Homo sapiens: one gene and its partners. The protein of the gene in region 3 purifies or fractionates together with the protein of the main gene of each other region. This does not show direct contact. Each region holds a gene or a part of one and is shown on either strand. Other genes may lie near its edges. The genes, in order: SLC25A1, CAND1, TMPO and ARPC1B.

What was found.
Region 1: the proteins of TMPO (region 3) and SLC25A1 purify together in Homo sapiens (affinity purification with mass spectrometry; 2 studies listed by BioGRID). This does not show direct contact.
Region 2: the proteins of TMPO (region 3) and CAND1 purify together in Homo sapiens (affinity purification with mass spectrometry; 2 studies listed by BioGRID). This does not show direct contact.
Region 4: the proteins of TMPO (region 3) and ARPC1B purify together in Homo sapiens (affinity purification with mass spectrometry; 2 studies listed by BioGRID). This does not show direct contact.

Annotation. Positions count from the first base shown.
Region 1 is NC_000022.11:19,173,944-19,183,471, forward strand, and holds SLC25A1 (tricarboxylate transport protein, mitochondrial isoform a precursor), read right to left. Parts: upstream 4,794-9,528; 5' UTR 4,731-4,793; coding exon 4,637-4,730; intron 4,563-4,636; exon of another isoform or gene 4,413-4,562; coding exon of another isoform or gene 4,298-4,412; coding exon 4,190-4,297; intron 4,099-4,189; coding exon 3,999-4,098; intron 3,923-3,998; coding exon 3,784-3,922; intron 3,262-3,783; coding exon 3,177-3,261; intron 3,008-3,176; coding exon 2,903-3,007; intron 2,751-2,902; coding exon 2,635-2,750; intron 2,552-2,634; coding exon 2,478-2,551; intron 2,302-2,477; coding exon 2,187-2,301; 3' UTR 1,638-2,186; downstream 1-1,637. Other genes in the region: CLTCL1 (clathrin heavy chain 2), read right to left, coding at 6,276-6,295, 6,788-6,863, 9,447-9,528. UniProt on the Homo sapiens protein: Mitochondrial electroneutral antiporter that exports citrate from the mitochondria into the cytosol in exchange for malate.
Region 2 is NC_000012.12:67,271,483-67,280,275, reverse strand, and holds part of CAND1 (cullin-associated NEDD8-dissociated protein 1), read right to left. Parts: intron 6,777-8,793; exon of another isoform or gene 6,650-6,776; intron 1-6,649. UniProt on the Homo sapiens protein: Key assembly factor of SCF (SKP1-CUL1-F-box protein) E3 ubiquitin ligase complexes that promotes the exchange of the substrate-recognition F-box subunit in SCF complexes, thereby playing a key role in the cellular repertoire of SCF complexes.
Region 3 is NC_000012.12:98,524,470-98,533,262, reverse strand, and holds part of TMPO (thymopoietin), read right to left. Parts: intron 5,378-8,793; coding exon 5,251-5,377; intron 1,584-5,250; coding exon 1,425-1,583; intron 441-1,424; coding exon of another isoform or gene 1-440. UniProt on the Homo sapiens protein: May help direct the assembly of the nuclear lamina and thereby help maintain the structural organization of the nuclear envelope. Possible receptor for attachment of lamin filaments to the inner nuclear membrane.
Region 4 is NC_000007.14:99,391,511-99,395,316, reverse strand, and holds the end of ARPC1B (actin-related protein 2/3 complex subunit 1B), read right to left. Parts: intron 2,647-3,806; coding exon 2,441-2,646; intron 1,289-2,440; coding exon 1,198-1,288; intron 867-1,197; coding exon 828-866; 3' UTR 501-827; downstream 1-500. UniProt on the Homo sapiens protein: Component of the Arp2/3 complex, a multiprotein complex that mediates actin polymerization upon stimulation by nucleation-promoting factor (NPF).

The DNA of each region.
Region 1 (9,528 bases), on a different chromosome or scaffold from region 3:
GCAGTGAGTGGCTGGCATCTCTGGAGGTCAGTATGTGAGGGTGGGGGTCCCCTCCAGGCAGCTGCGAGGGCTTGGCTGCTCCCAGAACTGCCTGGAACCTGGGGAGACTGTAAACAACCTCTTGCAACCCCAAGAATAAAGCTGCCATGTGTGAGGGCTTGCTCTGAGCTAAGCATGATTCTGAGCACCGGCAGGGAGTACAGCAAGTGGATGCTGAGGCCTGGAGGGCAGGCCCCAGAGAGCTGAGTGCCCCTCCAGGTTTCATGGCTGGCACTGTGGACCAGTGTGGCCCACTGCCTGCTTGCCACCCCACAACAAAGCTTCAGAGGTGCAGAACCAGTGGCCTGAGCTCCAGGGACAGGAAGCATCTTGGCGTGGGGTTCTCATGGTGGCACTTGCATGCCCTAGTGCACAGGGGCGGAAGGGGAAGCTCTGTTGCCTGGGCCCTTTCTCTGTGGCAACAGATGGGGAAGTCTGCCGTGAGGATAGAGAGTGCATGGCCATCCCATCACAGCACAGGTTGAGTGCTGAGCCACCCCGAGCCCTCCCCAGCCCAGCGGCTCTCCCCAAGGAGGCTTCAAAACCCCGTGCTCCCTTTGTACCCCCAAGCCCATGCTTGGCTCTCAGATCCACCTCGGGCCCTTTGCACCCCAGACTCCTCCCCAGCTGCACATTCCCGGGATTCCAGGCATCTGGTGCTGTGTGAGGTCACTAGGACAGGGCAGTCTCCCCAGGGACGGGACCTGTTCACATGGAGTTTCTGGCTGGCAAAAGCTTGTTCTCCAGTCTGAGCCAAACGCTTGCATGACTCTTCCCCCACGGAGGCACTTGGACAGGAAGCTGGCTTCTCTGCACAGCCAGGGGCACTAAGTGATCCCATCCTGCCTGAGCGTCCTCCACGTGGCTCATAGGCTGTGGAAAGAGGGGCTTGGCCCCATGGGGACATGCCAGTTCAGAGCTCTGGCCTCCAGCCAGAGGGACACCTTTCTCTGAGGCTCATGGCTGTGGCATGAGGTGCCCAGAGAGCCCTGGTCAGGCAGCCCCACCTCCTGCTGCCCCAGGGCAGCTGCCTCCCAGCCCAGGTGAAGGAACAAGGGAGGGCCCCTGCCCAGAGCCTTTGGGTAGCAGATGCCAGACACCCACCCCCACCTGGAGTTCAGAGGCCTCAACGTGCCCCCATCTCCTCCTCCCCACGAGCAGCCCATTTCACTCACTGAGGAGCTGGGCATACCCCAGAGGGGCCCTGGGCAACCCAACCCTTCCCTAAGCTTCCCTGTGGGTGAGGGGCAGGCAGTCGTCCTGGGGGCTCCATCTCCTGGGCCCAGCCCCCTGCTCTGAACACTCTGCCAGGCCACCCCTAGGCCTTGTCAACACACCCTTTTACCCATGCCACGGGATCTTGCCCAGAGGCCACAGGGAAGGCCAGGGTGCACCCAGATCCTTCTTGGCCTGGCGCTGGGCTTCTCAGGGAGCCAACACTGTGGCCACAGCTGCTCTGCCCTGGGTGGACACTAGGCTTTCCCTGTCCCCCTACTGCAGTGTCCTCAGATGGGGGTGGCCTGGTCCCCTGCAGAGGCACAGCCACCAATGCCCATGCATAGATGGGTCCATACAGGGACGAACACAGGACAGGAGGCTGCAACAGGATCCGGTTTATTCTGCCTTGGCAGGGTGGTCCTGAGAGTGGTGGGTGCCACCCTGTCCGGGGCGGAGAGAGGGCCCGAGGGCCAGTTAAGGCCAATGGCGGGAGAAGCAGGGGGCTGCAGCCCCTGGAATGCGGTGAAGCCAGGCCGAGGCCCGGAGGCAGCTGTGGTAGGCCAGGGCAGGGTGGAAGGCACCGGACTGGGACCGGGCCAGGGCTACAGGGCCGAGGACCCAGGCCACACGGGCACCCCGGGAGGCGGGGCACAGGGTCACGTGACACAGAACATGAAACACAGGCACAGGGTCATAGGCCAGATGCACATCCAGCCATGGCTGGGCCAGACACTGGGACACAGTGGTGGTGTCACACACAGACCACAGGGGGGACACATGGATTTGACAGCCACAATGCACAGACCAGGCTACAGAGCTCGAGGGACGTGGGAAGGGGCCTTTTGGCACTACTGCACTGGAATCGTGAGACAAAGGTAGCAGGACACTCTGGCGGTGCCTGGGGCGGTCCCCTTGCGGCCTCTCTAGGCTTAGTCCGTCTTCCACACTTTGTTGAGCAGCTTCACCACTTCATCATAGATGACAAACACTATGGCCACATCCAGGCAGACCCGGCCCAGGCGGGGGACAGTGCCCTTGTAGAATCTGGGTGGGAGGAGGGGCGGGGAGAGGAAGGCAGGTCAGCACAGTGTCCCTGCACAGGGCAATCCCCAGATACTGAAGTGAGAGGCACAGAGGCCTGAAGGGGACAGAGTGGGCAGGCCAGGTAGGCCGGGAAAGGTTTGAGGTGGGGACAATAGCCCTGCCCCTCCCCCACTCACGCCTTGAGCCCCTCCTTCTTCAGGATCTGCAAGCCGCAGTCCCACGTGTTCCGGTATTTGTGCGCCTCCAGGCCCTATGGGGGACATCAGCAGGCAGGGGCTCAGCAGCTAGCTCTGGCCTGGTCCCCCCTTCCCCTCCCCTTCCCGGCCCCACCACCTGCATCCGGGTCTTAATCACATCCAGAGGAGTGTTTCCAAAGACACTGGCTGCGCCTGCAATAGCTCCGAAGACCCCAGTGATCAGAGGGTTCATGGGCTTGTTGGGGTTGTCCCCTGGATATAGGAGGGGTGAGGTGGGTCAGAGGGTGCCGGGAGGGGCCTGGATCAGCACTTCAAAAGGTGGGTGCCCGCCACCCAGGGGTGGCCCCAAGGAGAGGAGAGGAGCTGGCCATGTGCAGAGATGGGGCCCTGTGATGCAGACACACCTCGGTACCAGTTGCGCAGGGAGGTCATGACGAAGAAGCGGATGGCCTGGTTCGAGCCCTGCTTCAGGACAGTGGCTGTGAGGCCCTGGTACGTCCCCTTCAGCCCTGCGGGAAGGCAGGCACGGGGTTACCCTGCAGCCTCTCAGGCCCCGGTTGGGAATTGGTGTGTGTGGGGGGTGGGTGTTGCACAAAGCCCAAGGCAGGATGGGAGGTGCAGGCCCTTCCCACCCTGGCCCAGGTCCCTGAGCCCTATCAGGAAGGTCGAGTGGCTCACCTTGTTCCCGCACAATCTCCCTAACCCCGTGGAAGAATCCTCTGTACTTGGGGTTTGGGGAGGTCTGGTCGTGGATGAACTTCACCTGAGAGAGAGAAGCAAAGGCGCAGGTTCTCGGCTGCCACCTGGGTGGGTCCTGGCTAGCTGGCAGGCCCAGGGCCCATCCAGGGTGGAGGGAACTGGGAACTCTTCCCCAGGAAGCAGTGCAGCCAAGGCCGCCCTGGGCTGCCCACACGGACCATGCCCCGGGACACAGGGCAGCCCACACGGACCATGCTCTGGGACACAGGGCAGCCCTGTGAGCAGCCTCTCCCTTTATGTTTGCTGCTCTTTTCCAGTTTTGGCAGTGAAGGTGTCATTTTGTTTTCTGCTTTATAAAAGTATTTTTTAAAGACTTTAAGGCTGCCTTTAGCATAGACTCAGCCTCCACGGGTGGCCCTTCGTGGCAGGCGTCCTGCCCCAGGGCCCCGCGGTCACCCCGCCGGCCTTCCCTGGCGTCCAGGAGACCCTCCCCAGCTTGCCGGTTGCCCCGGGAGCACCGGGCCAGCGGGGCCGCCCGTCTCCGTACTCCCTGCGTGTCCGGGGTCCTCGCCAGGACCTTCCCCACCTTGATGGTCTCCATGGGGCACACGACCACCACGGCCTCGGCCACGCCAGCGCCCAGGCCGCACAGCAGCCCACGCGTGCTGTCCAGCCGTCCCTGGGCATCCCGCATGTGGTTGCTGAGGAACTCGAACATTCCAAACCTGGAGGCGGGAGGCGGGTGAGAGGGGCTGCCGCGGCCGAGCCCCCCTCCCGCAGCAGCCACCGGCCGGGCCTCACCTGACGGCCGCCTTGGGGATGGAACCGTAGAGCAGGGAGCTAAGGCCGCGGTACAGGCCCAGGACGCCATGGCTGCGAACCGTCTGCCGCACGCAGTCCCCTGGGGGAGGGGGCGGTCAGGACCCCACGGCCCTCGGTGCCGCCGCCCTGGGTACCCGCCCCCCGCGGCGCCGCGGCCTCCCCCTCCTCACCGATGCCCCGGTACCGCGGCGGGTGCGAGCGCTCGTCCAGCTGCAGCTGCGTCTTCACGTACTCGGTGGGGAAGGTGATGCAGATCTCGATGCCACCCGCCAGGCCGCCTGCAGGGACCGGGAACCCGCTCCTGAGACTCCCGCCCGGCCGCTGGCGCTCGGGCCCCTCCCCCGTCCCGGACTTCGGTCGGCGCGGCCGCCGCGCCAGTGCCGCGGGGAACATAGGCTGGGGCCCCACGCCCCCATGCCCTCACCCCGTTGTCCCGGCGAGGCGCAGGGGGTGACAGACGGGAGGCGGGCGAGTCCCAGCGCGCCGGGTGGGGACCAGGACCGCGCCTCCACGACTCCCCAGCCCACGGCCCAACCCGGAAGTGGGGCGGGGCCTCAGCGTCCCGGGCCCACCCAGAAGCGCGGCGGGAGAGGGGTCCGCGTCCCGGAGGGGCCCACCTGCCAGGATCGCCTTCCCCGGGTGCGTCAGCTTGGCCTTCCCGGACGCGGGCGCGGCGGCCGCCAGAGCGCGCGGGGCGCGGGGCGCGGGCATGGCGGGCGGGAGGCGGGGCGCCCTGTGGCGGCTTCGGGTCCGAGACTCCAGAACTCCGCGCTCGGTCCGCGGTGGCGGCGGCGGCCGGTTATGGTCCCAGGGGCGGGGCGGCCGCGTCAGCTCCAGGTCCCGCCCCGCGTGGTCCGAGCCAGGCCCCGCCCCCAGCCCGCCCCGTGCGGGCCGGGAAACTGAGGCCTGGGCGGGGCGCGCCGAGGCAGGCGTAGGGGCGGGGCCAAAGCGCAGCCAATGGCCGAGGCCGAGTCCCTGGGCGACCGCGAGCGGCGGGACGGGGGCGGGGCTGCGGGAGGCGGAGCCGTGGCCCAGCTCCGAGCAGTGGGTCAAGGTGCACTGTGTGCCGCGCCGCGGGATAGCGGGCCTCGGGTCTGCGCGACTGTCGAGAGCGGCGGGATCCCCAGGGATCCCGGAGGCCAGGGGCACACCCTCCCCGAAAACACGTGGGGCTAGCCCAGTCCCAGAGGAACTCTAACGTTTCAAACCTGGAGGCGGGAGGCGGGAGGCCGGTGAGAAGGGGCTACGCCGCCGGGCCCCCCTCCCGCAGCAGCCACGGGCCGGGCCTCACCTGCCGGTTCCCACCCACACCTTTCCCGGTTGTAGTTTCTGCGCTCAGCGAACAAGGTCAGGAAAGACCACAAATGCAAGCGGCTGTATTCTCCTAGGCAGCTTGTCTGGGCAACGGAGGTCCCACACCCCAAAGAGGACCCAGCAAATCTTTAATGGACTGCGGGGCCTAGGAAACTGGCCCGTCCCTCCTACCCATACCAGCACCAAGCAGAGCACCTTTGCCTGGATAAACCGACTTTAATATTTATGATTGCCAAGAGGCTGAGAGTCCTTTTATGAGGTCCGGTACCTCCAAACAAGACGTGTTCATGTAGTCTTCAAACTGGCCTGGAGGGGGCAGCTCCAGCCAGTCGGAGGCGCCCAGGAGGAAGGCCTGGCTCCAGCAGGAGGGCCCACAGTCCAGTCTCTGTTGTCGGCTAAAGCTGGTCTTGCGCCGTCAGCCTCTACCCTGGCCTCCCCAGGCTCTGGGATGGCTCAGAGGTTGCCGTCATTGGGTTTCAGCAAAAATAAATATTGTCCAGGTGTCCCTGCCTCCCATTGCGTCCCCTGTGCTGCTGGAGTGACATGCTCCTTGGAGAAGTTAGTAACTCTGCAGGTAGGGTGGGTGGTGACAACGCCCACTACACGCGGAAGTTGTACATTGGAGGCTGGCGAAGTTGGGAGCAGAGGCATATCCATAGGGGAAGCTGGCAGGGGCTGGGCCCACGGCAGGGCCTGCAGAGGGGGAAGCCCACAATGAGCAGAGCTCTTCCTGCCCATGGGGGTCCTCTCCTGGCTGCCCCTGAGTAGCCCGGGGCCCAGGGAGCAGGGTCTATAGGACCAGCCCTTACCACCCAGACGCTGAGGCCCCAAGAGAGCAGGCATCCAGAGGCAAGGAGCGTGGGGTCAGCCAGAGAACCTGGCCTGGCTAGAGGATAAGCTAGTCTCCAAATGGGACACTTACTTAGTGCAATCAGCTGGGTCTCATTCATGCCCATCAAAATCTAAAAAAACCAGAATGACATTAATGGTGGAAGGACACACTCAGCCGGACGCTGGAGACCCGCCGGCGTGCTGCACACTCACACCACACCCTCAGGCCTGTGTTTGCCCCACAGTGTCCAAGCACCCCACAGCCTCTCCAGTCTGCTCGACAGCCAGGCTGCCCTGGGCAGGTTCTCAGGTGCAAAGCCCCTCCCAGCACACACCAGCAGCAGCCTTGCTGTCCAGGGGCCAGGCCCAGCAGGACACAGCAGTAGTTCACAGCTAGGCAGGCACCCCTATCAGAAGGCAGGCATCCTTACAGCAGGGAGGACAGCGGCCGTGCCAACATTCCTGGGCGTACACTTCTCCACACCCAGTAGCCACTGGGATCCTTCCAGCCCCCACCCATCTATTCCCATCCCCATCCAAAGCCCAGCCAGGTAAGGGCAGTGGGACTTTGACTCCCTCCCTGCTCCCTCCCCAGGGGGTTGGGGGCTACAGGTGCCACCTACCAAACACGAGAGGGGCAGGCTCTGTCACATGCTCCTCTTGCTTGCGCAGACTCTCCAAGGCATCCAGTTTGTCCACCTGCAAGGAGGCAAAAGCACGTGAGCACCCGCTTGACAGAGTGCAGTCCGGCCTCTAGGTGAAAGTGGAGTGGAAGGTCAGGACACAGGGCCTCCAGGAGAATGACAGTGGAGGAGGTGCACATGGGCAGATGTGGAGTGGCTCAGCCCACACCCCATGCACTTTTAGAATGCAGCAAGGCATGGAGAGGTGAAGCCTCGGTAGCTGGGCTGAGATGGAACGCCAGGTGGGGCCCCCAGAGCTTCCCAGTGGGCACTGGGGCAGTCAGTTGTTACAGGCTGTGCATGTGGCCTGCTTATGGGGGGCCAAGTCCTCCTCTGGATACAGGGACACTGCCACTTACCGACCTGCAGGGCTGGGGCCATGTGCAGGGAACACTGTCTGCTTCTGGCTCTGGCCAGTCTAGTTTGCCCGCCCCTCCAAACCAGCAGAGAGATCATGTGGCTCTCAGAGACAAGTCACCTGGCACCTAGACACTTCACCTGAGAAGCACTGAGGACAAACTGCCTCCTCACTCTTCCCTGAGGCTTCACCAGGCACTGACCCCACCCACTGCCAGAGAGCGAGGCGGCAGCACTGCACTAGAGGGGCGGCAGCAACTGTGCAGCTAGGATCCCCTCACAAACACACTGAGTAAGAAAGAGAAATAAGAATGTGCCCCCCATGAGCTGGGGTCTGGGGGGGGCTGAGAAATGAGGAGGAAGCAGGGGGCACACTTGCTGACACCTAGGGTGAGGGCTGAGCTAGGCCTGTACCCTCCCTACAATGGGAGAGCGCTGGGGGCGTCTCAGAGGGATGGCCCTCAAGCTTCCCAGATGAGCCACGAGGCCCCAGGCCCAGCTGTCCACCAGGAAAGGACTGTGCTTCTTGTCCGCGCCCTCATTCTCCCAGCACTGCTGTGTGGTGTCAGCTGAGCACCAGCTCAAGCTGACAATCAGCTCACACCCCCATGCCACTGACTGGGAAACCCCTTGCCAGCCCCCTCCTCTCCTTGAACTCTCCCCATGACAGGCGTCTCATCTGCCCCAGCAGGAATAGGTGGGTGGCAGCAGAGAAGGTGCTCCAGCAGCCACCACCTCCCAGGGCCAGTGGAGTCTGGGAACCCTGGGCCAAGGCTGTGCAGCCACAGTGTGGACCAACGTGATAGTGGCTGCTAACTCCATCATCCGCAACAGAAAGGGAATGTGCGCCTCAAAGTCCTGGGGGATCCCCACAAGCACTTTGACCCCCACAGCAATGACACTCCCTAGGGCCTGGTGAGCCTGAGTTCCTCTGACACTAACCCACGGGCCTCTACTGCCAGGAAGAGATTCAAGCACTTTCTTTCCTTGTGCTGGTTCTCAGAACACAGACTACTTTCAGGAAAGACACCCGAGGGATGGGAAAACCTGCTCATCATGGTGACAGCAGCTTCCACAGGCACGCACCAGACACCGCACACCACACACTGCATACCACAAACCACATACCACACGTGCCGCCTGTAGGGAGTTGCCATCCACTGTGGTGGGGGAACCAGGGCCCTTGTCAATCCAACCAGTCCATGTCCCCTGGCAGCCCACGAATCTCAGGCCACGTAGCCAGGGCTGTCCCTTCCTCCCCAACCCTTGAGAGTCATCAGGGAGTCTCACTCAGGCATGCTATGCAGATGGGATGGGGTCACACTGTCCTACAGGAGGGCAACGGCCTTGAATGGACTCTGGGATGGCCTTTATCAGGGGCTGGGCAGCCCCCTGGAGGCTCTGCAGGCGGCAGGCAGCCCTCCAGGCTAAAGCTGGCAGCATGAGCCCGCCTTCCTGTTTCCTTCCTACCTCCCACTCACCTGGGAGGCCCCTCCCTTCCCTCGCTCCACTGAGTGATGCTTCAGCATGAGTGCCTTCCGAGGCTCTCCATCTGGCTTGAAGGAGGTTAGATAGGCAAGTAGATGCTACTGGAAGTAGCTTTTCCAGTGTTAGAAACAACAAACTGTACCAGATGACACTGCTGACACAGGTCTCTGGACAGTGGCTAAAGCTAGATCCCAGCAGGGACTCCTAGGACTTCAACACCCAGGGAGAGTTTTACAATCAAGTACTGTCACTTCGATGAGGCAGAGAGTCATCCTCCCTATAGCTGTTAGAAGGATTCAGTGGATCTGTGAATACTCCTACTATGTGTTCAGCAAAAGGCAGCTACCACCAACCGTATGCTAACAGCTGCACCCCCAGACGCCACTGGGAGCTCCTCAGGGAGCTGGGATTGCCAGCCACCTCACTGTCACCTTGTTGAAGTCCAGGGCTGGGGATGAGCACGCCTGTTGTGCTCCTAGCAGTGTGCACATTGGGACAGCTGCCCAGCCAGAGTCTACAGGAGGGCTGCTGCCAGTGGGCACTCCCCATGATGATTTTCTGGAGGGGCTTAACGTTGGGCAGAAAACCACTTCAGCATGAAGGAAAGCAGCCACTCCTGAAGGCAGCCAGGGCTGGCTGGGGAATCTGGGTTGGCCTCAAAGGGGCCCACCCTTAAGACCTGCGGCCAGAGTCACTGCCAGGGTTGGGTCATGCCACACAGGGGCCGGGGAGCTGCAGCCGGCCCGGCACCTACCTTGCTCAGGTACTCCCTCATCACCTGGATGAAGTAGGGCATGGCCAAGTCCACGAGGTTGTGCCTCCAGGCCAGCTCAAGC
Region 2 (8,793 bases), about 31 Mb from region 3:
AGTTTTACACTACATGCAAGTAGGTATTATGGTAAAAACCACAATTACTTTTGCACCAACCTAATAGTTTAATTCTTACCACGTTCTGTAAAACTGCTTATTTTTAAAAAAGCTTATATTTGCATTAGGGCAATACAAGATCAGTTAAGCACGTACTTTTAAAAAATGGACACAGCTCTCCTAATTGGAAGCCCCTCACCCATTTTATAATGTGACAAAACAAAATTAAAACTACATGACTAATTTTCATTAATATTCTGGAAAGTGGAAAAATTGCATAACACATTAATGCAGGCACTCCTGCACACAAAGTACTGAAAAAATCTTAACTGTTTTACTTAAACAAAATCCATTAAATAACCATAATAGTTATGACCTCTAAGAACCACTGCAGTGCCAGTTACCTGCTTCCAGAGAAAACAGGGATCATCAATTTAAGTAGAAAAACATAATCCCAAGTAAAAAGTTGTTTTATGGTCCTGTATGGTTCTACCGGCACAAATTCATTCTTTACTTATTGTTTATTTATTCACTGTCTATTATGTAAGAAACTCTGGACTAAGAAATCAGGACAGATAAAAGTTGAATACACTTTGGCCCCCCTAACATCAAGAAGCTTACTTATATTGTAATAAAGAAGCCTACTGATTTTCAAAAATCTATGATTAATGGTTAAATATTTTAAAAAGTTGAAATGAGCACTATCAAAATTAGCAATAGATATTTTTAAAAAGCAGAAAAAGTAGATTATTATAATACCAAGAGTTGCTTTTAAATGGTGACCCTGAAATCACAAAGTTCTGGGAATAATTTATTCCTTCTATAAATGTGGTATTAAAAATTTACACTATTAATCTTATTAAGGAAGCTGTTTGACCAGTTTGAAAGCTGTCCATGGCATGTCCATGTCTCTTCAGCATTTACTCTTTTAGGTATGGTGCTAAGGGCACAGATCTCAATACATTTTATAAAACACTACTCAAGAGCATATGGAAATTATCACACCCAAGAGTTGACTGTTAGGTTGGATCTCAAAGGATGAACAGGGGTTTGCATGGGAAAAATTGGTTTGGAATTTAAATTACTTTTTTTTTTTTTTTTGGTGGTGGGGAAGGACAGAGCACCTCAGAGTGAAGGACTAAGGAAACAGTTCAGTATGTGGAGCACAGAAACCTAATAGGAAGATGATGGGAATATAGGCTGAGGTCAAAATGGGAATGGCGTTATATACTCATACACTGTGTAATAAGAACCTACTACATATCAGGTACTGTACTAGTTTTTGCTGATATAAGGGCTAACCAAAGCACACACAATTCTTGCTGTCTTGGAGCTTACATTGCAGTCTAGTAAAAGGCATATTAACTTTTTAAATTGCATGTATGAGTAAGCACCTGTAGAACTAAGAACTAAGATAAATGCTATGAAGGAAAGTGTTATCAAGAAAACACTATGGGGCCAGGTGCCAGTGGCTCACGCCTGTAATCCCAGCACTTTGGGAGGCCAAGGCAGGCAGATCTCCTGAGGTCAGGAGTTCGACACCAGCCTGGCCAACATGGTGAAACCCTGTCTCTACTAAAATTACAAAAATTAGCTGGGTGTGGTGGTGTACACCTGTAATCTCACCTACTTGGGAGGCTAAGGCAGGAGAATCGCTTGAACCTGGGACACAGAGGTTGCAGTGAGCCGAGATTGAGCCACTGCACTACAGCCTAGGTGACAGAGTGAGATTCATCCCAAAACAAGAAAGCACTATCATATAAACAAAGTAACATGACCTAGACTGAACTGCGGGTTGTGTCAGGAAAGACTGATCTGAAGAGTAGGAGCTGGGCATGGTGGCTCACACCTGTAATCCCAGCACTTTGGGAGACCTAGGCAGGTGGAGGTCAGGAGTTCCAAACCAGCCTGGACAACATGGTGAAACCCCGTCTCTACCAAAAATACAAAATTAGCCAGGCATGGTAGTACATGCCTGTAATCCCACCTATTTGGGAGGCTGAGGCAGGGGAAATGCTTGAACCTGGGCGGCAGTCGCTTGAAGCCGGGCAGTGGAGGTTGCAGTGAGTCAAGATCACGTCACTGCACCCCAGCCTGAGCAAAAGAGTGACACTCTGTCTCAAAAATAAATAAAGAGTAGGCAAAATTACGGTGAAGCAGGAGGAAGTTAGTGCCAGGTAAGCAAGGGCCAGGAATTTAAAGGATTTGTAGACCATATCAGGATTTTAGCCTTTATTCTAAGAGAGTGGGAAGCTACTGAAAAACAACTGGGTTACAGATGGGGAATAAATGCAATGATCAGATTTACATTTCAGAAACATTACTCCAGCTATACTGTGGACCATACTTTGGAGAGAACAAATCTTCATTTGGCCATACTGAATGGAGACTAGTTAGGAGAATGACTAAGTTAGAAATTATGATGGCCTGACTTAGGTTATGGCAATCAATGAAGATGGAAAAAAAAATGACATACAGTTGATTCTCATTATTCCCAGGTTCCATATTTGCAAATTCACCTACTCATTAACATTTATTTGTAAAGCAAAATTAATGCTTCCTATTTCACAGTCATTTGGATGAGTGTCGAGTGGTGAAAATTTTGAGTAATCCAACACATACATTCCCAGCTGTGGTGGCACAAAGCAACACTCTGCCTTCTAGCTCCAGCTCTCATGTTGTAAACAAGCATCTTCTTCTTGGCCTATTTCAGCCCATGTTTTTCACATGTTTGTGCTTTTTCTTGGCGCTCTTGTTGTTTAATATGGCCTCCAAGCACAGTGCTGAAATGCTGTCTAGCATTCCTAAGTGCAAGAAGGCTATAATGTGCCTTCTGAAAAAAACATATGTGTTAGATAAGCTTCTTTATTGGCTGTGAATTCAATGTTAATAAATCAGCAATATATATTAAGACAACTTTAAAAGAAACACTCATAAAACGAGGTTACAAACTCATCAACTGATTAAAATAATGTGACTCAGGACTCAGAGAAACTAATTCCATAATTCCCTCAGAAGCAATGGTTCAGTACTTGCTAACTCAGTGTTTGTGATAATGTTACAAAACATACTACAAATAATGAGAACTAGTTGGTTTGAATTTTACAAACTAAAATTAATAGTTCTTCAAAATGGATTAGATATAGGGATGGTAAGGATGAGCTAGCAGGAAAGAAGTAAAAGGAAAACCACAAGACTGGGTAATACAGTCAGCTAACATATCCTTGTCCAGAGTCTTAATGTTACCCTGCAGCCATTGTCACATCAGATGAATAAACTGCTCATCTTACAACAGAAGAAAGGATTAACTTTGGTTAAACTGCAAACTACATGGAATGGATATTCCTCTGATCTTAACAAAATCTCCGCCATAGTGAAGATGTGAAAATCAAAAATTAATGTCCTGCAGCCCAACTTTGTCTACCCTTGGCCAAAAGTGGGCACTGATAAAGAAAAAAACAGCAGCCTCCACATTCCAGAAACTTATCTGAGACTCATAACTAAACCTCAGTGTTATTACTAACCGATCTGATGCTTAACAGCTAAGGCATATTGTTTTCTTGGACATAAACAATCTCACAGAACATCCATTTCGGACAAGGTCCCTGAGCAATACAAAATACCAAACATTCCCCTCTCCAGTTAAATGAGTGACTGATACTTCTTTACCAACTACAGCTTTCCCCCTGCTTAGGTCAGCCCTCCCTGTAAAATTTATTAAGAGGCCGAATCATAGAATTGACCTCACTTTCTGACAACACTCAACCTAAAGCAAGGCTTCACTTCCTTAGACTCTTTCCCAAATTACCCAAATGAATAGGTTCCTTCTAACATCCTCTGATACCCTAAAGTGTGTGTTTTCCCTGACTATTACGGACAAAAACCCAACTCGTGTCAGGATGCCCATATAAGAGAATTCCAAGAAGGAAAAAGTGATTTAAAAAAATATACCAAATAGATGAGCAAAGAAAATATCCACTAAATGAGTTATATTAGGAGACTAGGGAGACTGTTGGGGATTTTAGGAGAGCAGTCTCTACGAATTCAGATGGGCAACAGCTAAGAAATCTGGAGTTTATCTTGTAGTCAATGGAAATTAGTGAGGGAGGCAATGATCAGCTGCAGTATATAGGAAGAAAATTCTAATGGCCAGAGGGAACAAACTGGGTTAGGAAGAGGCCTGAGACAGCAAGATTAATTTGAGAAATACTCATCAGGAGACTAAAGAAGACAGACGGGAGAAGGGTGATATCAAAGATTTTCTGCTTGTGACTTTCAGTGGATGGTAATTTAACAGGCCAAAATAAGGATAAAGAAGGCATTAAGACGGGAAAAGAAAAAGATAAATGTTTACGTTTCAGACTTCAATGGAATTCCCAGGTTGATATGACCTGTAGGCAGTGCCATCTCATTCCTTTATTCAACAAGTATTTTGAGGGCACCAACATAAGGAACTCTACTCTGCAAACACAGTGATGAGTAACACAGTCTGGAACTTACACTAGGTATGCACTAGATCGATAGATACCTTGCACTCACAATAACTCTCACCACAGCCTCTCCCATCATACATAAACACAATTTTACTCTTGCTTCCAACCAGAAATCTAGTTGATATGGTCAATTTTATCACTCAGTACACCAATTACCTTTCAGAGATCCTGCACATACACCACTGCTATTTCACTTTTCCTCAGTTATTCCTTAGAGTGCTATGAATTAAGTTGGAACAGTTTTTTTTTTTTTCTTTTTGAGACAGTCTCCCTCTGTCACCCAGGCCACAGTGCAGTGGTGCAATCTCTGCTCACGCAACCTCTGCCTCGCAGGTTCAAGCAATTCTGCTGCCTCAGCCTCGCGAGTAGCTGGGATTACAGGTATGCACCACCATGCCCGGCTAATTTTTGTATTTTTAGTAGAGATGGGGTTTCACCATGTTGTCCAGGCTGGTCATGAACTCCTGACCTCAGATGATCTGCCTGCCTTGGCCTCCCAAAGTGCTGGAATTACAGTCGTGAGCCACCACACAAGACCTAAATTGGAATAGTCTTAATATTGTTCATGTAAAGAAATCTAATTTTTACTAATCTTTCTTCCCAGTTTTCTCTGTGAGGTCCCTTCCTCCTCTTTCTCAGTGGTGAGCCCTAATCACTGCTGATAACCAGTTAGCATAGTATATATCAAGAAAAAAACATCAAAGTAAAATCAAGAAAGTTACTGCCATCAACCTTCTAAGTATTTTTAAAAGTGCCCAGAAATCACCTTCTTAATCTCTGCAAATCTATTTCTTCTGATTAAACCTGCTTTTCTCCAAGCACAAGTACTTAAGATAATTTCACTATTTCCTGTTATGTTATTGTAAATGCCCACCCACACTGTACTTTCAGCTATATGATAGGATCTCTAAGGTTCCTTCCAGCTCTGAAAACCTGATTCCTTAAAAGGCTTGAGTTTTTTTTACAAGCATTTTAAACAGTTTCCAAAAGAAAATACCGTCCAATATCCAAAACACTTAAATAAATAAATCTGGTAATATAAACCTTTATCAAATTGGGAAAAACTTGCATTCCAAAATGGGGTGAATTATTTTAAGAAGATTCTATCAAGTGGTATTTAAACAAACAGTTTAGTTGATTTTACAATGGTTTTCTGGAGGTTCCTAAAATCCCTATATAATGGAAATAAAACCCAATTCTACTTAAACAAGCACCTACTGAGAACCCACATGGCCCAGAGCCAGACAAAGAGAACGATTCCGTTTAGTAAGACAAGGTCCCTATTCTTAAGGAGTTCTGTGGACAATATCCATCCAGCTACAGTCAGGTTATCTATTCCCTCTTCCCCAGTGAAGTTTTGTATCGTGTGCTTTACATTTTCACTTTCTATCTAGAGTTTCATTTTCAACACCTGGCTCAAATCTCTCCATGGACATGAATCTTCTTGCTTTAATATTCTCTGCCACTTAATGCCTGACAATTACATATTGCCCTGGGTTATTCATCTTTTTACAATAGTGTCTTAACTATTCAACAAGCATGTAGATTTAGGGAAAGTAAGCACCAGATCTTAAACTTTTTGTAGTCCTCAGGAATTATTAAAAGCATCTTCTAGCATGAAATATTCTATAAGCCTAATTTTAGAGGGAAATGAAATTTAAGGCCTGAATCTTAACATCCACTAGTCTAAACCCTGGAGAAGTGACATAGCTGGGTGGTCAAGAGTTCATGTTCTGGGGGTAAAGAGATCCTATAAGTCCCAGACCTACTATCTAACTGACCTTAAACAAGTACTTAATCTCTCCAAATCTCAGTTTCTTCAACTGTAAACGAGATTATTATTATCCTCTTTTACTAAAGTTGTAAGGATAAACAAAAATCAAGCTCACAGTAAGCATTAATATTAACTATTATATATAGAAAGATAATGATATTTTCTTTAGCTCTTGATTCCTTGGAATATTTTAAATCAACTGGTGGTTGAAGAATATGAAAATAAAAGAAGTGGCTGGGCACAGTGGCTCAAGCCTGTAATCCCAGCACTTTGGGAGGCCAAGGTGGGCAGATTGCCGGAAATCAAGAGTTTGAGACCAGCCTGGGAAACATGGTGATACCCATCTCTATAAAAAAAATTAGCTGAGTGTGGTGGTGCGCACCTGTAGTCCCAGCTACTCTGGGGGCTGAGGTGGGAAGAAAATCGCTTGAGCCCAGGAGGTTGAAGCTGCAGTGAGTTGAGGTGGTGCCACTGCACTCCAGCGTGGGTGACAGAGCGAGACCCTATCTCTAAAAAAAAAAAAAAAAAAGAAAAGAACTTAGTTACCTCAACCTACCAAATATTCAATATTAATATTCACAAATGGAGTGTCACATGGTTCATCCACATTAAAGCTTTCACTCTGGTATCAACCGAATCCCCTATCTATTGGCTACATTATAAGGTTTACTCTTTATTCCTTTATGGAACATGCATCCCTAGAGGTCCTTAAAATAACTATATACACTGGTACAAATGTTTTCTGGCAAAAAGTCTCAGTACACTCCAGAAGTGTTTCTTTTAGGGAGGAAGTGATGAGAAGCACTGTTCTAAGGTACTGTCCCAAGGAATGTTTCTTCATTTTTCTTCTGAAGGTTTTATTTGAATTGGCATTCATTAATAACTTTTCACTAAACCGAGGCTAGTAAGTAACAGGCACTATCCTAGTAATTAAGACACACAAATGCCTCCTCCTTTTTTTAATAAAAGAGCTCCTAGTCTCCTTTTTTTAAAACAAACAAACAAAAAACCCTGCATGGGTGGATGCGGTGCTGGCCTGTAATCCCAGCACTCTGGGAGGCCCAGGCGGGTGGATCACGAGGTTAGAAGATCGAGACCATGCTGGCGAACATGGTGAAACCCCGTCTTGACTAAAATACAAAAAATTAGCCAGGCGTGGTGGTGTGTGCCTGTAATCCCAGCTACTTGGGAGGCTGAGGCAAGGGAGTTGCTTGAACCTGGGAGGCGGAGGTTGAAGTGAGCTGAGATGGCGCCCCTGCACTACAGCCTGGCGACAGAAAAGACTCCATCTCAAAAAAACAAACAAAAAAAACCAAAACAACAACAACAACAAAAACCCTGCATATGGCAGAGTTCCTAATCTCAGCATTTCTCATCCTAATGCTTCCCCATTTCTCCTAAGTCTTAATATCTCATTTTTAAATAATGCACAATACTAAAACACAAAAGAAATATTACAATTTTTCAATAAATTGAGCCTTAATAGTCCTACAAAAAGATTCTTTTAAAATGCAGAAATTTCCAAATTTTTAAGCCTGCATTCATTTCTTTACCTTCTCTGTATTAATGAACTATGTAATTATATAAATAGACCTGAAATTTTATGCCTATAACAACCTTTTGTAATTAGTCATGTCCATGCCTCTCAGAAGTGAAAATGTAATCTCAAATTAAATAGCTTGCATAAGATCTTACAGTTCATAACAAAGAATCACACATGATTAGAACCCAGATCTTGTGACTAGGTCAAATTCTCTTTGGATTCTACCATGAGGATAATAAAATTTGCTCTTCATTTTGGCAGCATTTGTTTCTTCTCTCGTCCTTAGTACAGGCAGAGTGCTTTGCACATGTTGGTCATTCCATAATGTTAACCTTGCCCTCAAGATCCTTCTAGTGCTAGGTATTTTTAAAATATGTAGCCACAAATCTTGGTATTTAAGCCAAAATAAATAAACTTCTAATGAGAACAAGGCATCATTTTTTTAAAAAAGAGCAAATTAAAATAAATGCCTATACTAAAAATATGCAGAAAAAATTTCAAAATTCTTGACTCCAAACGCTCACTAATTAATTATTAAATGTCTGTTTAAACTAAACATATAAAGTGCTTTAGTTCCAAAGACTTGTTTATTAACTAGATGGCTACAGCGCATTATAAAAATGTTTTTTAGAAGACAGTTGATAAAAATATCTTAATGATGCCAAATTACTGGAAATCACGTACTGCTCCTAAATATACCTTGTTTAGCATTCACCAACTATTAGGAATATATCAATATTACACTAATCCTCCAGGAATTGTTTTGATTCAGTACAACCAAAATTCATACATAATCTTTACCAAATTCAGCAGTGACTGTCATTTAGTATCAGAGCACTATTTCTTTCATGTAATTTATTTAAGAAAAAAACAACTAGGTATGTACATGTTATCTTTCTTTCACAGGAAATTTAAGAAAGCAAGCTTCAGTCAATAATCACATGTATGGTATCACCACATAATTTCTTTAGCCTTTCTAAACT
Region 3 (8,793 bases):
ACTTTTCTCTCTACCGCAAATATTTTCTACTATGTCTTTATAGTAACCAGTGGTGGTTTCTTTAATCAGTGAAGGAGAAGCTGCAGTAGAGACCAACATGGCACTGTGTTCAGGCTGAGAAGATGACGAAGAACTTTTCTCTAAACACCTATCATGGCTAGACTTGCATGAAATAAACAAATTCCTTTCAGAGGCTAACTTCTGCAACTGTCCCCTGCCAGGCAAGTTTGTGGCAACAAGAGGCTCCCTAGGTAGGTCTCCCTTAGAAGTATGTACTTTCTTAGCTGCCTGTAGTTCGGTACTGCCCAAAGGAGGACGGGTGGAGATTTCAGGAAAAGAAATACCCTGAAAAAATCCACCACCAGAGGGAGTAGTTCCAAGTTCAGAAAAAGGAACAATATCCCTAGTGGACTTCACTTTCTTGTGTTCTTTCTTCTTTCCTGTAGAGGCAAAAGAGGCAGGAAGTTTAAGCATTACCTGTGTTTGAGCTGATTTTATTCTTTGCCTCTTTGCTAAAAATAGTGCTGTCAAAGGAAAAGACTATAATTTCATATTCTGAACTAATCTGCCAGATTTGCCCTGGTAGACAAAGCTTATTGAGATATAAACAATCTGGATCAAAATAAATAATCACAAGTCATATTAATTAAAAGTTTACAAAAATCAAGTTGTATTTATAATTTTTAAAGGACATTTATTTCACATACTATCCTTAAAAAATATTTAAACATCATGATCAAATTTTAAGATACTATACAGTCTACTAAAAATATAGTCAAAATATTTGCTTTAAAGTTGCCCTGAGGTCAGATTAACAAAAACTGCGAACAATTTAAATGCCTATCAATAGAGAACAGAGAAAATATGCCATATTTAAATGCTACCACTATGTATTAATTATGAAGAATAAACAGATATGTAATTAACAGGATTAGATTTCAAAAATAATGGAGTAAGAAAAAGCAAGTGATAAGATTTAGCATACTGTTTATATAAATTTTTTATTCTTAAAGTATAAAATAATACCATGTATTAGACAGATGTGTATGTGAAATATAAAACTTGAAAGACAGGCATTGAATTAATAATAGTAGTTACTTCTGTGGAGGTGATAGGTACAGGTAAGTACGAGAAACTTTGCCTTTACTTGTAATACTTTATTCTCTCAGAAAAATGAGATTTGTAGCAAAAAAGACAAAGTTAACTTGCAATTTCAGGTGATGGAAAATTATGAATTTGTACTATGTTGCTTCTTAGAATTTTCAATAAAAAGTATTTAAATCAAATTACAGAATTACTCTAATGACACGAATAAAATTTGTGTATCTTGCCAATATTGTTTTAAATTTTACTTTCTTCATGGTCACTGAATTTTGAGTGTGAAAAAATTCCATACATTTGATTAACATCATTTAAAATTTTACCTTCTTCATTGTCACTGTATCTGTCAGAATCATTACTTCCATTCTGCCTTGTATTTTCTGCTGAAGAAGAAATTGTTGGCAGAGGAGTAGAAGATCTTGATTCTGTTCCTTGTTCCCTCAGTTTCAAAAGCTTTTTCTCATATAGCTTCCTGGTTGTTCCTGGATTAAGGCAGAACTTGCTTTAGTACCTGTATTGTTTCATTTAGGATGCAGCTCAGACACTATCTTCAGCAACATTTTAAGCTATTTTCACCCTTTATTTTTCTAAACTCAAGTTCTTAAAAAAAAAAATACCATATAATGCGGCCAGACATAGTGGCTCACGACTGTAAACCCACCACTTTGGGAGGCTGAGGCGGGTACATTACTTGAGGTCAGGAGTTCGAGACCAGCCTGGCCAACACAGGGAAACTATCTCTACTAAAAATACAAAAATTAGCCGGGCATGGTGGCACACGCCTGTGATCCCAGCTACTTGGGAGGCTGAGACAGGAGAATCACTTGAAATTGGAAGGCAGAGGTTGCAGTGAGCTGAGATCGCACCACTGTCCAGCTGGGAGAGGAAGTAAGATGCTGTCTTAAAAAAAAAAAAAAAAAAAAAAAGGACGTGGTGGCTGATGCCTGTAATCCCAGCACCTCCAGAGGCCAAGGCGGGTGGATCACCTAAGGTCAGCAGTTCAAGACAAGCCTGACCAACATGGTGAAACCCAGTCTCTACCACAAATACAAAAAATTAGCTGGGCCTGGTGGTGGGCGCCTGTAATCCCAGCCACTCAGGAAGCTGAGGCAGGAGAACTGAACCCAGGAGATGGAGGTTGCGGTGAGCTGATATCGCACCATTGCATTCCACACAACTATATAATGCACTCTTTTTACAACAGGTGGTTTTTTGGGAAATGACATTTCTTTTAATAGCATGAAATACATAGTAGGTTAATACAGGCCTTTCTATAGACCATCTACTGAAAAGCCATGTATGACTATTTTTGACTGAAGTCTTGCATTTATTTTCTCTACTACTACGTAATAGTACTTGCCAAGGTAGAAAAATCACATGTAAGCGGATTGTACCTCTATGAAAAATAACTATGATTAAATTTCCACAACTCTAAGACATTAATATGCCTGTATTCAGTTATGGGGAAAAGAAAAGTTCTATAAATCAGATTTAAATATAACAACTTTGCAGTTAAAATGACCTTTTATGGAAAACACATATCACAAAGCAAAATTGATTACAAATTCTTAATACATTTGAACATCAGTGACAGTTTAAAACCAAAATAGATTTTGTTTTACATTAACTGTATTATCTTTCCTTAACTCCTGGTAAGATGAGCAAAATGATAATGGATATTTTTTAGAAGCAACATGTGTCCAGAAATGTTATATAAATAGCCTTAAGATGAACAGGTCATACATCAACATATAATTTAATGTAGGCTGATATTATAACACACATTTTTCAGTGTCTCCCTTTTGGAATTTCTTTTTTTTTTTTTGAGACAAGGTCTTGCTCTGTTGCCCAGGCTGCACTGCAGTGGTGCGATCATAGCTCACTGCAACCCTGAACTTGTGGGCTTAAGCAATCCTCCCACCTTTGCCTCCTGAGTAGCTAGGACTACAAGTGTGCACTACATGCCTGGCTACTTTTTTTTTTTTAAATAGAGACAAGGTTTCACTATGTTGTCCAGGCTGCTCTTCAACTCCTGAACTCAAGCAATTCCACCACCTTGGCCTCCCAAAGTGTTGGGATTACAGGCATGAACTACCATGCCCAGGCCTTTTAGAACTTTAAACAAAAACATTTTTTAAAAGTGTTATATATCTGTTGGTACTTGTATATGAATAAGCTTATGATTATTTGGAAGCAGCTTATACATTAAAACAAAATATTCTAAATCTTTATTTGCAACTATACCTATAGCAAAACCTACCAAATCTCTAGCGTCCACAATTTTAGGTAACTTAGAAGATCAAGACCAGATGCAGTGACTCATGCCTGTAATCCTAGGACTTAGGGAGGCCTAAGTGGGAGGACTGCTTGAGCCCAGGAGTTCAAGACCACCCTGGGCAATATAGTGTGCCCCCATCCCTACAAAAACTACAAAAATTAGCCGGGAATGGTGGCACGTGCCTGTGTTCCCAGCTACTTGAGAGGCTGAGGTGGGACTGCTTGAGCCTAAGCTGAGGCTGCAGTAAGCCATGACTGTGCCACTGCACTCCAGCGTGGACAACAGAGCAAAGACCTTGTCAAAAAAAAAAATAATAATAAAATGGAATTTTCTCATCTTGAGGTTATTGCTAAGACCCTCCAAAACTAAGGCATAATCAACACTGCAAAATCTTCATCACCTAAAAGTAATCCAACGATGGAAATCCAGTGTATTTAGTCCTAGGTTTTTGTTTTTTAAGGGTATAATTCCTCAATTCCAATCAAGATAGGACTTTCAAAAGGGTACTTTTAATGATAAATGAAAAAGGGGCTCAGCGCGGTGGCTCACACCTGTAATCCCAGCACTTTGGGAGCCTGAGGTGGGTGGGATCACCTGAGGTCGGGAGTTTCAGACCAGCCTGGCCAACATGGCAAAACCCCATCTCTACTAAAAATATAAAAATTAGCCGGGCATGGTGGCAGGTGCCTGTAATCCCAGCTATTCGGGAAGCTGAGGCTGGAGAACTGCTTGAACCTGGGAGGCAGAGGTTGCAGTGAGCCAAGATCACACCATTGTACTCTAGCCTGGGCAACAAGAGCGAAACCCCGTCTCAAAAAAAAAAAAAAAATAGGGTACTAGGCTAGGAATTTAATAACTTCATTAAGAAGAAGTCTGTCACTAACTCACTTTTTCTTTTTCCCTTATTTATTTATTTTTTTTGAGACAGGGTCTTGCTCCACTGCCCCTGGCTGAAGTACAGTAGCCATCACGGCTCACTGCAACTTTGACTTCCCCCCACCATCTCAAGCAATCCTCCTGCCTCAGCCTCCTAAGTAGCTGGGACAATAGATTTGTGACACCACACCCTGCTAATTTTAAAATTTTCTGCAGAGATGGGATCTCCCTATGTTGCTCATGCTGTTCTTCAACTCCTGGGCACAAGCAATCCTCCCATCTTGGCCTCCCAAAGTGTTGGGATTACAGGTGTGAGCTACTGCGCCCGGCCATTAACTCATTTATTTGGGCAAATTTGCCCAGCTATGTTACCTCAGATTTTCCTCAATTGTCATACAAGACCCACGTCTCAGCAGAAGTACGATATAAGTGGCCAGGCACGGTGGCTCACACCTGTAATCCCAGCACTTTGGGAGGCCGAGGCAGGCGGATCACAAGGTCAGAAGATCGAGACCATCCTTGCTAACACGGTGAAATCCCATCTCTACTGAAAAATACAAAAAATTAGCCAGGCGTGGCAGCGGGCGCCTGTAGTCCCAGCTACTCAGGAGGCTGAGGCAGGAGAATGGCATGAACCCGGGAGGCAGAGCTTGCAGGGAGCCGAGATCGCGTCACTGCACTACAGCCTGGGCGACAGAGCAAGACTCCGTCTCAAAAAAACAAAAAACAAAACAAAACCAAAAAAAAAAAAAAAAAGTACGATATAAGCACCATATAAAACAATCTCAACAATAGAGGTAATTTTGGAGATTATCTAATTCAATCCTCTCATTTTATTTCACTCATTTACAGTCAAAGAAACACAGGTTCTGCTGATAACAAATGATTAATGACAAACCAGTCCTTGGAACCTAAACTGCTAAACAAAAAGGAGAAAATAATTTGGGGTCCTGCTTCAGAGAAAAGATACTGTATTTGAAATTTTATCAACTTACCCACAATAGGACCAGGATTCACTCCGTATTTCACAAGCTGATCCAAAAGATCTTCATTAGTGAGCTCTGTTACATCTAGATCATCTTTATCTTCTTGTCTGGGTTTATCAGTTTTTTTTGTGGCTTTCTGTAAACAAAGTCCAGTAATCATTTCCATATGAATTAAAGTGTTCACTTACTAGATAATAACCTGTATAACATAAACATGCAAACTCACTACCAAATTGGTTTATAGTAATATTAGGCCTTAGCAATTCCATTAAATTAAGAGCAACTCATTATTGGAGAACACTTTCTAAGTTGAACTGTAATCATACAAACCGCACAGCCAAGCAAGTAACTTAAAGACATTGTTGTTAAAATAGTCCATTTTGGATTACCTATCTAAAAGAGATAGTAATGGCATCAAAAATGCAAAAGAGCAACTAAAAGTAAAACTGACTTTGGGTAACATTTTCTTTTAAATAACCTTTTTTTTTTTTTTTTTAATGATACAGGGTCTAGCTATGTCACCCGGGCTGGAGTACAGTGGCTCCATCTCAGTTCACTGCAACCCCCACCTCCCAGGCTGAAGCGATCCTCCCACCTCAGTCTCCCAAATAGCTGGGACTACAGGTGCGCACCACCACCCTTGGCTTTTTGCCTGTGGTTTTTTTTTTTTGTTTTTTTTTTTTTTTGTAGAGATGGGGTTTTTGCCATGTTGCCCAGGCTGGTCTCAAACTCCTGGACTCAAGTGATCAGCCCACCTTGGCCTCCCAAAGTGTTAGGATTACAGTTGTAAACCACTGCACACAGCCTAAATAACCAAAAATTATATTTCATTTCTTAAAGCATATAACTCCAATGGCAACGGAAACAGATCAGCATGAACCATGGAAAGTAAAGCCAGACTGGGCTTAACATTTTTCATCTAAATGATCATGAATGCTACTTACTAACTTTTTGATAATCCTTAAAAATTTAAATTAATCCAGGAAAGTTTAAGACTTTACCATACAGGCTTACACTTAGATACATATATAGAAATGATTTTCTTTTCTTTTTCTTTTTTTTTTGGAGGTGGAGTCTCGCTCTGTTGCCAGGCTGGAGCGCAGCGGTGCAATCTTGGCTCACTGCAACCTCCGACTCCCGGGTTCAAGCGATTCTCCTGCCTCAGCCTCCCGAGTAGCTGAGAGTACAGGTGTGCGCCACCACGCCCAGCTAATTTTTGTACTTTTAGTAGAGACGGGGTTTCAACATGTTGGCCAGAATGGTCTCGATCTCTTGACCTCGTTATCTGCCCACCTCAGCCTCCCAAAGTGCTGGGATTACAGGCATGAGCCACTGCGCCCGGCCAGAAATGATTTTCTTTAAACAGCATATGAGAACTTAAGAAGGCCAAATGAATACAGTTGGCTCTCCATTCTCCCAAATGAATACAGTTGGGTTCTACATATGTGAATTCAACCAACCACAGATCAAAAATACTTGGGGAAAAAAAAGACAATACGACAATAAAAACACTAACAAAAATACAGTATAACAACTATTTACATAGCACTTACATTGTATTAGGCGTTATAAGTAATCTAGAGATGATCTGAAGTATAAGGGAGGATGTGTGTAGGTTACTACACCACTTTATATTAAGGGACTTACTAAAGCATCCCCAGAGTTTGATATCCATGGCCGGGTCCTGGAACCAATCTCCACCCCAAGGATAGGAGACAGGACTGTAAACTCCTTGTAACACAGTTATTTTAGTAGCTAGTTTATGACTTAGGAAGGAAATCTGACAGACTTCATGGTTAAATTATCACCTGTGACACAGTTTAGTCACCAGATTAACTTCTGTACCACCAGTTTACTAAAAATAGTCAAAATAACTTGAAACAAACTTTGAGGGAAAATTTGAAAGTTTTAAAATTAATTTCTACAAAGGCAGTATTTACTGGAAAAACTATAAATTTCCAAGGTTGAACAAATAAAAAGGAAGCAAAAGTACGGATACCTTTTAAGGCTGTGGCAAACAGCCTGACAAATGCCTCAGTGATCACAGAAAAAACATCAGAGTACTGAACAAAAAAATGGCTAATTAAACAATGGCAACATCAAAGTAAATTTTACGAAAAAGGCTAAAATTATCAAGTTGTATGGAATGCTCACTTTCCAATAATATTAGGGGGAAAAATCAGTCATGATTTGACTATGTACTGGAATTACTGTTTTTAACAATAAAAATGTTCTGACCTAGAATTGTCAGGCTCAAATCAAATCTTTTTTTTTTTTTTTTTTGAGACTGTGCCTCACTCTTATCCAGGCTGGAGTGCAGTGGCGCAATCTTGGCTCACTGCAACCTCTGCATCCAAGGTCCAAGTGATTCTCCTGCCTCAGCCTCCTGAGTAGCTGGGATTACAGGTGTGCACCACCACGCCCGGCTAATTTTTGTATTTTTAGTAGAGACGGGGTTTCAGCATGTTGGCCAGGCTGGTCTTGAACTCCTGACCCCAAATGTTATGCCCGCCTGAGCCTCCCAAAGTCCTAGGATTACGGGCGTGAGCCATGGAACCTGGCCTGAAATACTTCAAATAAAGCAAGATATGAGAAATTCTTTTTAAAAAGCTGCTAATGGCTAATCATTCTATAATCAGAAGCCAAAAAACCTTCACCAAAAAAATAGCTGCTCATAAGAACAATTATGTCAACTTACGAGAAATCTTAAATAGACGGCTGTGGAGAGTTACAGTGAGAGTACTTTTAGCAGGCTTTAATTCACATACATTGCACTGACCTAGAACTGTCAGGCTCATATCTGGAAGCAACCCACACCATAATATCCAAATAGTTGCCTAGGGTCTAAGAGTTCTAAGACTTATTTCTTTCAAGAAAAGATTTAATCAAACAAACTTAATCCTATGTTACTGACTTACTCAAATTTTCCAAAAAGTGCAGTCAGGTAGTACAGAAAAACTAAATAATGCTTAAAATAAAAATAAAACATGGAAAAACAATCAATCAGGTTCAAATTATTTGTACATAATCCCCACTACCACGAGAATGTTCAAATTTACTATCAATAAAACATCCAGGAAATTCCAACTTTTCAAACCCGCCTGAGAGGTTTTCAAGAAATCTCTTTGGGCCAGGTGCAGTGGCTCATGCCTGTAATCCCAGCACTTTGGGAGACCAAGGTGGGTGGATCACTTGAAGTCAGGAGTTCGAGACCAGCATGGCCAACACGGTGAAACCCCGTCTCTTTTAAAAATGCAAAAATTAGCCGGGTGTGGTGGCACATGCCTGTAATCCCAGCTACCTGGGAAGCTGAGGCAGGAGAATTGCTTGAATCTGGGAGGCGGAGGTTGCAGTGAGTCGACATCATGCCACTGCCCTCCAGCCTGGGCGATAGAGCAAGACTCTGTCTCAAAAAAAATCTTAACTCTTTTTTTTTTTTCTTTTTCAAGGTGGAGTCTCTTAACTCTCTCGCCCAGGCTGGAGTGCAGTAGCGCCATCTTGCCTTGCTGCAACCTTCTGCCTCCCAGGTTCAAGCAACTCTCCTGCCTCAGC
Region 4 (3,806 bases), on a different chromosome or scaffold from region 3:
TAACCAGGCTTGGTGGTGTATGCCTGTAATCCCAGCTACTTGGGAGGCTGAGGCAGGAGAATCGCTTGATCCCAGGAAGGCAGAGGTGGCAGTGAGCTGAGAACGCACAACTGCACTCCAGCCTGGGTGACGAGCAAAACTCCATCTCAAAACAAAAGTTCCACAACCAGCCTGGAGTGTGTAGCCCCTTTGTCCAGGAATTTGACTAGTCAATCAGTGACACCTGGTACTGGCAGTTTTGGGAGTGGCAGCCCAGGATGGACAGCAGTGGGGAGGGAACCATTTGGCATAAGGCCGTTGGGCTTCAGGATCAATTTTGTTGGCAAGCAGTAAAAATAAGCTATCTACCTATGGCCGTGCAAACACCAATCTCTCCCTGGAGTCCCAGCTACTTGGGAGGCTGAGGCAGAAGGATTGCTCCCACGAGTTCTAGTGCAGCCTGGAAAACTTAGCAAGACCCCAAGGAAATAACAAAAAACCTCTCCTTCCACATAGGCAAGCATGTCCATAATTACTTTTTTTTTTTTTTTTTTTTTTACACAGTTGCATTTTATTACCTCCACATTTTGAAGCAGTTCATGACCAGCATAGTGCTTTGGGGGCATTTTTTTTTTTTTTCAATAAATGAAAGCATTTAAGAAAAAGGCACGTATTCCTTGAATAGGTAAGAAAAGCTCCCCATCTGTCCCCTCCCTTTTTGAGGGAGCAGCCCCTATGGGAACTCGTATTGGTACCCCAGAAACATTCAGCAAAGCAACCATTAGCCTCCCTGACCCCTCTCCCCGCTTCCCCAGCAGCTAGGATGAAGGCAACATATTCCTCACAGGTCATTTGATCTTGAGGTCCTTCAAGGCTGACTCCAAGCTCTGCAGGGAGGCAGAACGGACAGGCTGGTTCTCAGCTGTCCTGCAGGCACCCCACTCCCAGGGACCTGATCACCCATCTCAGCCCCAGCACAGCAGAGGGCAGAGAACCTGCAGTTTTGGAGTCTGTCAGCTGGGTTGGAATCCCGGCCCTGAAGACGGGTGCCCCAGTGAGCACCAAGGCCCAGATGTCAAGGGGCCGCCCCCACCCCTCATCCCCATGCAGTGCCATCTCTGCAGGAGTGAAGGATGGGGGTCATCTCCAGGGAGTGGGGATGGGGGGAAAGGGTTGACCTGGGAGGCATGGCGGGAAGCCAGGAGGGGCAAGCCTCACCTTCACATCCCAGATACTCATGCCGCCATCCATGCCAGTGGTGCAGAACTGCGAGCACTTGGCCTTGCCGCCGCTGAGCACCGAGATCTGGCTGCAAAGAGGAAGAGGAGCTTATGAATTCAACCTGTGCTGGCGCTGGGCTCAGGCCCACCCTGTCCACCAGGCGCTCCCAGACTTCTTGGGGAGCGGGCTTTAGTGAGAAGTACCGAGGGGGTGTAGTGGGCTTAGAAGTCAGTTCTGCCTTGGGGACAGTGGCATGCGAGGTGCAGGCAAATGGGACAGGACACTCAAGTCCTGGGAGGCAGGAAAGACACGTGTGTCTGCGGAGTGTACACAGTGCCAGCAGTGCAGCTGGACAGGACAAAAAAGGAGATGGGGGTGGGGGCAGCCAGGGACTAAGCTGATAGCTGGACAAAGGTGTTTCATCTGAGGAAGCCATCGGATCTGGCGGACACAGGAGGTTTTACAGACCGAAGGGCTTGGCCAGTCTTGCCATACAGCTCCCGCTCCCTCTGATTCGCCGCGGGGTGGACACGTGTGGCTGGCAGCTTTTGGGCTTTGAAGAGCCTCTTCCCCATCCCACCCTAGATCCATAGAAGGCTGCGGAGAGACCCTCAGCTCCGCCCCCACCTCGCTAAGTGCTAGCAATAGACCCGCCCCAGCTGTGACCCCGCCCAGGAAGCCCGCTGGTCACTGCCTGGCCACCCCAGAGAACCGTAGGGGCCAGCCCTACGACAGTCCCCACCTAAGTCCCGGAAATGCAGAGCGAGGCTAGCTGCTCAGCCCCATCTGATGCTATTTTTATGCAACCTAAAGAGGTCGACCCCGTCTTATGTCGGTCGCACCGTGTCCCTCCCAGGCTCCACTAGCACCTGGGCTGCTATGGTGAGATCAAGATGGGCCCCGCCCACAACTAACGATGTTATTCCGCAGCGAGTCAAAGCCACTCCCTACCCTGGGCCCGCTACGCGACCTCTGCCGGCCTCCGCCCCACGCGGTTTTAGTACGGCGCCAAGGCCCCGCCCACAAATCGGCCCCGTCCCCTCGTGTCCGGGCCCGCCGCTCATCAGACGCCGTTCCGGCGCAGCGAGTTGAGGGCACGCCTACCCTCCCTCCGGGTCCCCAGTCCTCAAGGTCCCAGCACAATGCCCCAGGAGGAAGACTCCAGGCCCCTTCCTCACCCGACGCTGTTTCTGGGCGAGCCGAGGCCCCGCCCACCCGCCGGCCCGGCTCCCGCTCTCACCTGACGCTGTTCTTGTGCAGCGAGTCTAGGCCCGCGCCCGCAGCCGTGCCACCCTCGGAGCTCGCCTTCTTGTCCAGGTTCTGGAAGCGCTCGCGGGCCGTCAAGCCACGCTGCGAGCTCTGCTTAGGAACGTCCAGCCGCCCGCCGAAGCTCAGCATCCCCGCGGCGGCGTCATAGGTGAACAGCACCGGGAAGCAGTCGTGGCCCTGCGCGGAGGGCGGGGGCCATTGGAGCGCCGCGGAGGGGAAACCGAGGCCGGAGGGAAGGCCAGGCGGGCGTCTGGCCGCCCGGGAGGCAGATGCCAGCTCAAGGATACAGACGGGCCACAGCGAGGGAGGCCCGAATTGCAGGTGTATCAAAACCGGGGGTGATGCTGGGGGCTGCCACCTCCCCCAGCAAGGCCAGCGTTGGGACTCCCTGGGAGCTCAGGCGCCTTCTGTCCTGCCCAGCCAGTTACACCTGCTCTAGGGGAGACCCCTGCAGCTGTTTGCTTTTCTAGGCAAAAAGCAAGCCTGACCTGGCCCTGGCACCCCCATTATGTTTGCAGAGGGGTGAAAAGGGACTTGACAGATGTGGGCGGAGGGGAGGGAGAGCAGTGCCCTTCCTGGACACCTGGAGGAACCGCACACCCCGAACTCTCGCCCTTTGCATTAGGCGTGGCCTTGCCATTGCACCTGCCAATAAAATGTGGGCAGAAATGTTAAGACCCAGGGCATGATTCCGCAGGTTCCGGCTCCCTCGTGGCATCTGGGACAGCATGCTGGGGACAGCTTCCATCAGAGCACCTCACAACACCCACACTGGACATAAAATGTGAGCAAGAAGTAAATATCTTTTTTTTTCTGTTTTTGAGATGGAGTCTCGGTGGCTCACCCTTGGCTCACTGCAACTTCTGCCTCTGGGTTCAAGCAATTCTCCTGCCTCAGCCTCCCGAGCAGCTGGGACCATGGGCGCCCACCACCACACCCGGCTAATTTTTGTATTTTTAGTAGAGATGGGGTTTTGCCATGTTGGCCAGGTTGGTCTTGAACCCCTGACCTCAGGTGATCTGCCCTCCTTGGCCTCCCAAATTGCTGGGATTACAGGTGTGAGCCACCGGGCCTGGCTCTTTTTTTTTTTTTTTTGAGACAGGTTTTGTGTCGCCGAGGCTGAAGTGCAGAGGTACGACCATAGCTCAGTTCAGAAGCCTCGACCTCCCATGCTTAAGTTATCCTCCTGCCTCAGCCTCCCAAGTAACTGGGATTATGAGATTACAGGTGCACCACCACACCCAGCTAATTTCTTAACTTTTTGTAGAGACAAGGGTCTCACACTGTGTTGCCCGGGCTGGTCTCAAACTCGTGGCCTCCAGTGATACTTCCACCTC